Linked DNA regions of Homo sapiens. The protein of the gene in region 3 purifies or fractionates together with the protein of the main gene of each other region. This does not show direct contact. Each region holds a gene or a part of one and is shown on either strand. Other genes may lie near its edges.

Region 1 (3,656 bases), on a different chromosome or scaffold from region 3:
GGCTAAGTTCCTCCACCTTTCTGCTCCTTGGTGCCCTTATCTGCAGAATGAGGGCTTTGGACTGACGATCTTTATGGTCTCTCTTTAAAATGCTGCAAGGCAAATTCTGGCAGAATTAAAGAGAGACAGAAGTCAGTGTGTGTGTGTAGGAGGGTGGTTTGTAGGGTTTTGGTTGAAGGAAGCCAGGCTGGAGGGTCTTGCTAGTTGTATTGAATGGGAAATGGCAAAGAGAAGTAAAAGATGTCTGGCCTGGGACATCTGACCTAACATTGATTATGTGAATTGAAAATACATAATAAAATAATAAAAATACCAGCTTTCACTTAGTACTGGGTGGTTTTCCATGAATTTTCACAAATGATGCAATAGATTTTTGTAACAACCCTCGGAAGTAATTAGAGCAGAAAGGTGATGAAGCTGGGACTAATACTGCAAAGCACATCTGCACCAGTATGCGCCACTGCCTTTCTGCAGGATTTGTAGAGATAGGAGAAGCTAAAGCTCACTTTGGAAACCCTGAGTAAACAGGAGAGAGACATAAGGTTAGGGTCAGATTTTAGGTGAGGTTGAATTTCTGCGTAAGAATTTAGGTTACATTCTGGAACACAGAAGTCTCCAATTACGAGCTCAAGACTTCCTGAAATGCCTTGAATTCTGATTATTGATGTTTAATCTTACTGCTCCTGTTCTGTGCCCACTCCTCCTCTAAGGTCCCCCTTTCCCCAGCAGGAATTCTGGGGCTTTGACTATCACAGAGTAATTGATATGACTCTTCCAAGAGCTTTTAGTGATGCTGGAAAAAGGAAATCCATGCATTTCATATAAAGGCGAGGATTCTGGGGCCACTGTATCATTAATTGATAGGATGTGTTCTGCAAGTTGTGCTTTGGAAACTTTGTCACCAGAGGTGAAATTCCACAGAAGGCATAGAAATCTAGAAAGGTGTAAGATGAGTGTCTGTACATTCCTTCCTGTAGAGCCCTAATCACTCTGCTCTGAGCATGAAGTGCACCAAGGGGGGACAAGTCTCTGCTTACCACCCAACTGTGTGTTCACCACCCCACTTTGTGTTCATGTAGAAGGGAGTTACTCAGGATTCATTTGCTTGCATGTGTGAATATTTAACTAGGTAAAGCAAAAAAGGACTTACTGGCTCATTGGACCAGAAAGTCCAAAGGTGGTCCTTGCTTCAATCATGGCTGGAACTCAGAGACTTACACAACTTTGTCGAGGTTCTTTCTCTCTCTCCCCATTTCTCAGTCCCACTTCTCTCTGGGTCAGCTGTATTCTGAGGCACTCTTTCTGGATATGGAGAAAGATGACTGTGGGTATTTCTAAACCTACATTCCTGGGCTTTTCATCTATGAGAAAAAGAGGTCCTTTCTCTTCCAGGTCCCATTTTTATAAATCTCCTTGAAGGGCTCTGATTGGCCCTGCTCAGTGGTAATTGAATTGGTCTCTGTGTCTAGCAGAGAGTGCTACTCTGATTGTATTGGACTAAATCATGTGCCCAACCCTGTGTATATGTGGTTCTGGTGCTGGGATGAGGAGGAGGAGGCTGGTAGGGCACTATGATAGGCAGTTCTGTCAAGATTACATAGAGTTGTGGTTCTCCCAAGAAAATAATGCTGCCAATCAAAAACAATAGTCTATTATTGGGAATAATTCCTTCCTTTTTTGGGACAGCCCTCTGCACAATGATCTGGAGTTTGCACATGGAAGCAACTCAGGTGCCCAAGACAATGCGTATCCCAAAAGTGGGACCTTTCTCCCAAGCAAGGTATAGCCCAGTGATGAAATAATGCCCTCATGTTTAAACTTTATTAAAAGGAGGATTGTTTCCAGAATGGGAAACACCCATTCTGGAATGAATGGGAAGCCACCATTTATTCATATCTATGTACTTCTAGCAAATATCCCTGTGCCTTATTTCCAGCCCAGAGATTTTGTTTCCAAAAGCCCTGCCCATCTAGTGATGATGAGATTGGATACCCCCTACTTTGGCCATTGTAGAGCCAGTGAAAGTTTGAACAGGGAGCTGAAGTGATTAACACAGAACTATTGTTTATGCAAATACATTGGGTTGTTGGAAATGCACAGAGGGGAGTGGCAGGCACAGATTAGGATTTTCATTTAGGAGGCATAAGATGATAGGTTTCCAATTAGAGTAATGGCAGCAAGAATTTGTGAGCAATATTATGAAGTTCTTATGAGGTTATATGTCAGGATGAAGGAGCATCTTTGTTGACAGAAGCATTTGTGGAATGAAATAGGCCAGGAGGGAGTAGACTAGGAAGACATCCTGGGCCAGTAGGTGAAATGGCTATGCGTGGTAGATAGGTTAATAGCAAATAGATTGTGTAGACAGGAGGCCTGTGGTCACCATGAGTCCTAGGGGCATGTATAGAACTGACATTTACCAAGGATCTACTTAGTATGGTAGGTTCATGTTGCATACTTTAAAGTTATTATATTAATGTTTATATAAAGTCAGGGAGGTAAATAACTTACTGAAGGTTATGAGGCCATTAAGCAGTACAGCTGGAATTCAAACCCTGGCAGTCGGACATCAAAGCCTTGCTTTAACCACTATGCAAAACTACCTCTCAACCTCAAAGTCAAATTCACTGTATCAGGCCAAACTGAAGGACCAGCTAAAGGTTGGCCCTTCTGATAGGAAATGAGAGTGCCAGAATTCCAGGTCAAATAGAAGGCACAGAACAGAGGTTATTAGGGTGAAAGTGGATAACATTCATGCTCAGAGCCAACCTGGACAAGAATGTCAAGGTAAGACATTCTTGGAAAGGAAAGAATATCACATGCATCCATTCTGGATTTAGGGTTTGGGGTATAGCAAGGAAAGGGGATGGGAAAATTATCAGGCAGTTGAACAGATGGGCAGATCAATAGAACAACTGGAGTTTGATTGTTGACCTGAGAACAGGAACTCTACCATCTGCCATGGCTTTAAATATCCTTCCTGGTGTAAGTTGATAAGAATATGGAATGGGCAGCTCCTCAGAGGGAGACAGGATTTTATTAGTTGTCAGGCACTATCAGGGAAGGAGCTAACGTTTGTAAGGCCATGCGCCTTAGATACGTAAGCTCACTAAATCTTCATTATAATTCCAGAAGGGTAAATATTATGCCTCCCCACCATCGCCACTTTTCTTGAGCCAGGAAATGGAGGCTCAGAAGGTTAAGTGACTTGCCCGAGCTCCTGGAGCCAGACTGGAAAGTGAAAGAGCTGGCATGGAACCCAGATCTGTTGGAATCCAGACCTCTTCCTGGATCTTCAGGGAGTCATCCTGGTGCTAGCAGGACAAGGTCAATATCAAGTCTGAGAGATGGAAATGGGGAAATCAGGAGGGGCATATGGTTGTGAAGGAAGACAGTAAGCTAACTTTTAGACATCTGAGTGTGAGATAAGAGCAGACCGTCTGAAGAGAATTGTCCAGCAGGATTATATCTGGCTTTGGCAGAAAACTTAATAATCTAGTAGGTTTTTTCCCCTCAGTACAGGATCTCTATCATTATGCAGGGTAGATACGTCAGCAAGTCAGATGTTTGGAAGGCTTAATTTAAGTCACTGATTTCAGTTCAAGAGAAGGGACCTCTGCCAGCTGCCATGGCCTGAATTTACCTTTATACATACA
Region 2 (3,656 bases), on a different chromosome or scaffold from region 3:
TTAGGGAGGTGGCCGTCTGGAGCTTTCTCAACAGACTGGCTTTCCCCATGGTGTTTCCCTTGCCTGATACAGCAAGCGGTTTACAGTCCTGGGCCAAACAGGAAGGCGACAGCGCTAGACGCAGCCGGCAGGTCCGCAAGGTTGAGGTGCAGCGGTGCCGCAGGTGTCACCTCGAGAGTGCAGTCGGAGAGCGCCGCGGGTGAATGGGCCAGGCAAGGCAGGGGTACCCTAGGGATGCGACGCGGGGCTCCTGGGGACAAACCCTGCCCCAGGCCGGGAGGGAGGAGGGAGCAGGAGGGTCCAGCCCACGCCGCTGGCCACATCAGAGCACCAAGAGAACACCAACTGTTTATTACAGGAATTCCTATGAAACAGCTCCAAGAAAAAACCCACACATAGGAGGAAAAAAAATAACAAAGCAACACTCAACAGACATGGGGCTGGGGCTTCCCCCACAGTGCGCCGGGTCCTGGCGCGGGGAAGGCTCAGAGACCCGTCGAGAACTCGAGCTGGGGTACCGAGGCACTCCTCGGAGACCCCCCCCCCTCCCTCCAGGGCCCCAGGCCTGGCGCGGGGAGCAGCGGAGGGGGCGACCGCTCCTCGGCAGGGCCCCCCGAGCCAGCGTCCCGGCCCCGCGCGCGTTTCCAAACTTGGTCACGCTCGGCGGCGGCTGCGCGTCCCGGCCCTCCCCAAGCTCGGCGTTGCGAGTCCGGGCAGGGTGGGCGGGACGAGGTGCGATCGCCGGCTCGCCTTCGCTACGCCCTTGTGATCTTGGGGCCACGGAGGCCACCAGGGCCCGGCCAAGGATCGGATGCCACTCCCAACCTCCCAGAGCCGCGCCGAAGCCTCGTGCCTGCCCAGGCTTCCCGGCTCTCCGGAAGGTCTGCGCGCTCCCATGTCCAGGGCGGGGCCACGGGCTGGGCAGCCTCCCTCCCCGTGGCAGTGGTCAGTGCCGTGTAAGCGTTCCTAGAATCAGAGTTCTCCTCCTCAGATCACCCGCCCTTCTCAGGGGCACCCAGCAAGCCCTTATGCCCTAGGCGCTCACCCAGGCTGGCGGCCTTTCCGCCTTGCTCTTTAGCCCTGCACCTGCTCAAAGGGGTCACTCCAGGACCCACCGCTGCCCACCCTCGGACAGCAGGGCTTCCAGTCCAGCTGGGGAGTCAGAGCCCCTGTGAGCCCCTACTGTGGTGTGACTCCAGAACTGGCTTTTGTCTGCTGCCAAATTAAAGACCCTGCCTCCCCAGAGTCCTCCAGCTCCAGGGTGGCCACCCTCCCCATCCCTGCTGGGTGACCGGGAGCTGCTGGGAGTGAGCCCATCCCTAACAGCAGCAGCCTGATGAGGCCAGACGGGGCAGGGCAGTCGGCAGATGCTTTGCAGTAGCCCATAGCTCCTCAGAGTTCCTGGGGGACTGGCCAGGGACCTCCCACCCAGGCTGGGTGCAGGGCTCGTGTGCTGGGCCAGCAGCCCCGGGGGAAGGCTGAGATACAGGAGGACATGGAAGGGAAGGGCACAAGTGCCCGGAGGGAGCTGAGGAAGGGGGACCAGAAGGGAGCTGAGGAAAGGGGGTCAGGCAGAGTCTGTGACAGGAGAGATAGAGAACGGACGGAGGCAGAGACTCCACCTTCAGGCCAAAGAGCCTCTGGTGGGGGTCATCTTGCCCTTTTCCATATTCCAACTTTTATCTGCTTTCTGGATTTTTTTTTTTTTAAAGGGAGGTTGGTTCCTGCATTTCCACTCTTTGACCATAGGAACGCCTGGCTACAAAAGGGGCTGTAATTGGCTGCTGCCTATAGGGGCCCCAGGTCCTTCCTCCAATTGCAAGGCAGCAACTCCGAAGTTCTAAGTCCCATGGAAAGTGGCAGTGGTTGGGCTGGACTGTGGCTGGAGGATCACCGGGCCTCGGTTCTCAAGCACCATCTGTCTGGCTGCAGCTGGGCCCTTCAGCTGGGGGCCAGTGTTGCTTTCCAGCTGCCCCCACCGGGTCAGATCATCTCTGGCAAGGAAGAGCTGCTGGCATCTGGTAGGGGAAAAAAGGGATGGGAGGAATCTTTTTCAAAGGAGCCCAATGGTCTTTCCTGGTCACTGGTTCCTGGAGAGACAGTTTTGGGAGAAGTTACTAAAGACGTAAGCCCTCTCCTTTTTCCAGGGACTCGAGGTCAACCGTAGAACTCTGCCTGGGTCATCCCCCCATTCAAATTCCTAGAACCATTCCAGCTTGCCCAGCTGCAGGGACTCTGGCAGCAGGAGATGGAGTGAAGGAATGGAATCCCGGGGTGAAGCAGCTGTAGGGGAGGGCTTCAACGTGGGAGGGTACCTGGCCCATTCTAATACGTCATAGCTCAGGGGAGCTAGGCCACAAAGACCTGTAGGTGGAGAAAAGTAAACTGGGGGCAGAACTTGGTAGGACTCAGACACCAGGCTGAAGAGTTCCTAAGACTTTACTCAGAAGACTCATTCAGGCCAGGCGCAGTGGCTCACGCCTGTAATCTCAGCACTTTGGGAGGCTGAGGCGGGCCGAGGTCAGGGGTTTAAGACCAGCCTAACCAGCATGGTGAAACCCCGTCTCTACTAAAAATACAAAAATTAGCCGGGCGGGGTGGCACGTGCCTGTAATCCCAGCTACTCGGGAGGCTGAGGCAGGAGAATGGCTTGAACTTGAGAAGGGGAGGTTGCAGTGAGTGGAGATTGCACCACTGCACTCTAGCCTGGGCAACAGAGCGAGACTCCATCTCAAAAAAAAAAAAAAAAAGAAAGAAAAGAAAAAGAAAAAAAAAGATTCATTCAAAGAGCACAGGAAAAATGGAACTAAAGTGGTGTTTTGGTGGTGGGATAATCAGAGTAGGTAGGGGCAGTGAAGAGAACAGGGCTGTGACCTAGGTGATGAGCATCTATCAGGGTGGTAATGGAAGGAATAGAAAAGAGAATGAAAGGGGGCAGTCAGGAGGAGAGACTGAGTTGCTATCCAAGGCTGAAAAGAAAATCTTGGGTGCAGCTGGGGACACGAAGCAGCTCTGGAAGCCTAACTGCGATGGAGATTCAGATGTAGGAGCCAGATGCGCAGAAGTGTTGCTGGTGCTATAAAAGAGGGCGGAGGCACTGCCAGAGTGGGCAGTGAGAAGACTTCGAAGAGGGTCAAGGGCAGAGCAACAAGGAGAGCCAGTATTTAGGGAGTGGGCGGAGCAACAGGAGCCAGGAGAGAGGAAGGAGAACCTGGCTTCCTGGGGTCACAGGAGCCAAGGGAGGGCAGCTTCAGGAGAGATCAGGGGAGTGCGTGTGGAAGAGCACCATAAGAATGCAGAAGATGCTAAGGCCCTGAGCTGCTGGGTGACCTCCGAGTCAATCCGAGTGATGGGAGGGGCTGTCAGCCTGCAGTGGATGAAGGAGGATGGCAGGGAAGACTCAAGGACCCTTGGTGTTTAAGGGGAGGAGGAGGAGGATGTCAACTTGCAGAAGGAGCTGGAAGGGGACAAGCTGGAAGTCCTAGGACAGAAATAAATGATGAGGTGCAGGTACGGTGGCTCACACCTGTAATCCTAGCACTTTGGGAGGTCCAGGCGGGCAGGTCACCTGGGGTCAGATGTTCGAAACCAGCCTGGCCACATGGCAAAAATCCATCTCTACTAAAAATACAAAAACAAATTAGCCAGGCAAGATA
Region 3 (2,508 bases):
CGAATTGATTATCTTCTCTCTTTTCTTTTTTGGGACTTTTTTTTCTAAAAAACAAACAACAAAACAGTTCTTTGAAGTTCCATTTAGATTTTCATTCTCAAGCAAAGATATAGGTATCTTCCAATGTTTCTCCTCTGAGATTTTACTCCTTCCCCTTTGACAATTGCCACCTCAACAGAAGCCTGATCAGAAATGAATGCCTTTCAGGCCGGGCTCAGTGGCTCATGCCTGTAATCCCAGCCCTTTGAGAGGCTGAGGCGGGTGGATCACTTAAGGTCAGGAGTTTGAGACCAGCCTGGCCATCATGGTAAAACCCCATCTCTACTAAAAGTATGAAAATTAGCTAGGCATGGTGGCATGCACCTGTAATCCCAGCTACTTGGGAGGCTGAGGCAGGAGAATCGCTTGAACCCAGGAGGAGGAAGTTGCAGTGAGCAGAGATCACACCACTGCATTCCAGCCTGGGAGACAGAGCAAGACTCTGACAAAAAAAAAAAAAAAAAAAAAAAAAAAAAAGAGGCTTTCACAGACCATAAAATAAGAATAAGACAATAATTTGGTAGTTTTTTTTCCTGATGCTTCAAAATTCTATACTGAACTCTCAAAACCTCAGATAGCCTATCTTATTATTAATGATCTGTATTGCAGGTGGATTAAAGAACCTCATTTAGCCATAACTTAGCAAATTCCATGACTGCCAGGATGTTTAACAGTTGGTCAGTCCACATGAGTGAATGACTTTTGTGAGAGTAGAAGTTGGTAGTTTTTCCATCAGAGAAATATTTTATTTGTTTAAATGAAATGGTCACAGGTAATAAGAGAATAAAATAAACCAGCCTGATCTCCATGAAAAGTAGTTAGTGAGCTTTCCCTATAACAACAAATGCTCAAGATGTAGTTTAACATCCCAAATTGGTAGTATAGTAAAATAACATTCACACTTTCAGAGTTTATGAAATAATCATATGTATAACAGCCCATCTAACTCATGAGACTAATATCCAAGATTCAAGTTGTTTAAAATTGTTATTTTATCAAATTATATCACAAAGATACAAGAAAATGAGCTTTGAAGATGTGTATGATTAGATCTCTTGTTTAGGTATATACCTTTGGAAACTTGAAATAAATAAATCTATAACAATTCCTTAAATGTAAATACCACAATATTGGTTCAGAAAAACACATATTACTCTTAGCAGCTTATTTAAAAACACATCAACTCAATGTTATCTTTAAGAAGACTGACAAAGTCAGGTTACAAAGGAGGTTCTCATTTATTTTCAAGGTATCTTCTCAATTGCTTTTTTCTTACACATTCATAACAAATTCAGATGCACAAGTGGCCAATCCATTCTATAATACCACCAGATTGTAGAATCTTCCAACTCATGACTGGAGAAAAATCTTGACTATAATGTAGTTCAACAAGTCATCAAATTAGAGAATCCCCTGTACTCCATTCATTCCAGGGCCATCAACTTACTTTTGAAGACTGTCGATAACAGAATCTCCTATCTCCTTAGTGATCCATTTTCTATTCGAACATCATTGACAGTCAAAAACTCTGCTGTTTTCTGTTCATGAAACAATGATTCTGTTTGCACATTTCAGTCATAATAAATAAGACTAATCAGTCTTCTAAATGATAATCCCTTTTTTCTTGAAATATTTCAATAAAGAGTTCCTATATGATGAAAGCCTTATTGTCTGGGTTAAAATGCTAAAATATTTAAATTTTTATTTGAACCTCATTAACATTTGTTCTCCCATTCACCAGTCAGTCATCTATTTTTAGAGATATGTCCTGTAAGCAGACACTACCGAGCATGTTTTAAAATTCATGTTCACTCTTTATTTATTAATTATCATTATTATTTTTTGAGACAGAGTCTCGCTCTGTCACCCAGACTGGAGTGCAGTGGCACGATCTTGGCTCACTGCAACCTCTGCCTCATGGGTTCAAGCGATTCTCCTGCCTCAGCCTCCCGAGTAGCTGCGATTACAGGCCCATGCCACCCCACCTGGCTAATTTTTGTATTTTTAGTAGAGACGGGGTTTCACCATGTTGGTCAGGCTGGTCTCGAACTCCTGACTTCGTGAGATGCCTGCCTTGGCCTCCCAAAGTGTTGGGATTACAGGCATGAGCCACCGCACCCGGCCATTTTCACTCTTAAATACTATCAGGCACACAGTATGCAAAAGACACTGTAGTAGGCACACAGCATCGGTGCTTAGTTATTGTTAACAACCCAATAATTATAATAATGGTGATGTCAACAAATACGTGTTCACTATGCTGCTTTAGAGTTTGAAAAAAAGTTATAAAATTATTTTCTTAGAATTTGAGTCAGATAGATAAGGAAAGTCTTGTTTTAAAAAATAATATAAGTAGAGCTTATTTGAGCCAAGCTTTAGGATTGCAACCCAGGAACATAGATTCAAGTTGCCCTGGATACACACTCTATAAGCAGCAGTTACAGGTGGATTTTTACTCCAGACTGGGCA

What was found.
Region 1: the proteins of PCDHGA6 (region 3) and TMEM200A purify together in Homo sapiens (affinity purification with mass spectrometry; one large-scale study listed by BioGRID and IntAct). This does not show direct contact.
Region 2: the proteins of PCDHGA6 (region 3) and CUEDC1 purify together in Homo sapiens (co-immunoprecipitation; one large-scale study listed by IntAct). This does not show direct contact.

What each region holds. Positions count from the first base shown.
Region 1 is NC_000006.12:130,368,862-130,372,517, forward strand, and holds part of TMEM200A (transmembrane protein 200A), read left to right. Parts: intron 1-3,656.
Region 2 is NC_000017.11:57,861,268-57,864,923, forward strand, and holds part of CUEDC1 (CUE domain-containing protein 1), read right to left. Parts: intron 2,019-3,656; 3' UTR 1-2,018.
Region 3 is NC_000005.10:141,377,898-141,380,405, reverse strand, and holds part of PCDHGA6 (protocadherin gamma-A6 isoform 1 precursor), read right to left. Parts: exon of another isoform or gene 761-2,508; intron 1-760. UniProt on the Homo sapiens protein: Potential calcium-dependent cell-adhesion protein. May be involved in the establishment and maintenance of specific neuronal connections in the brain.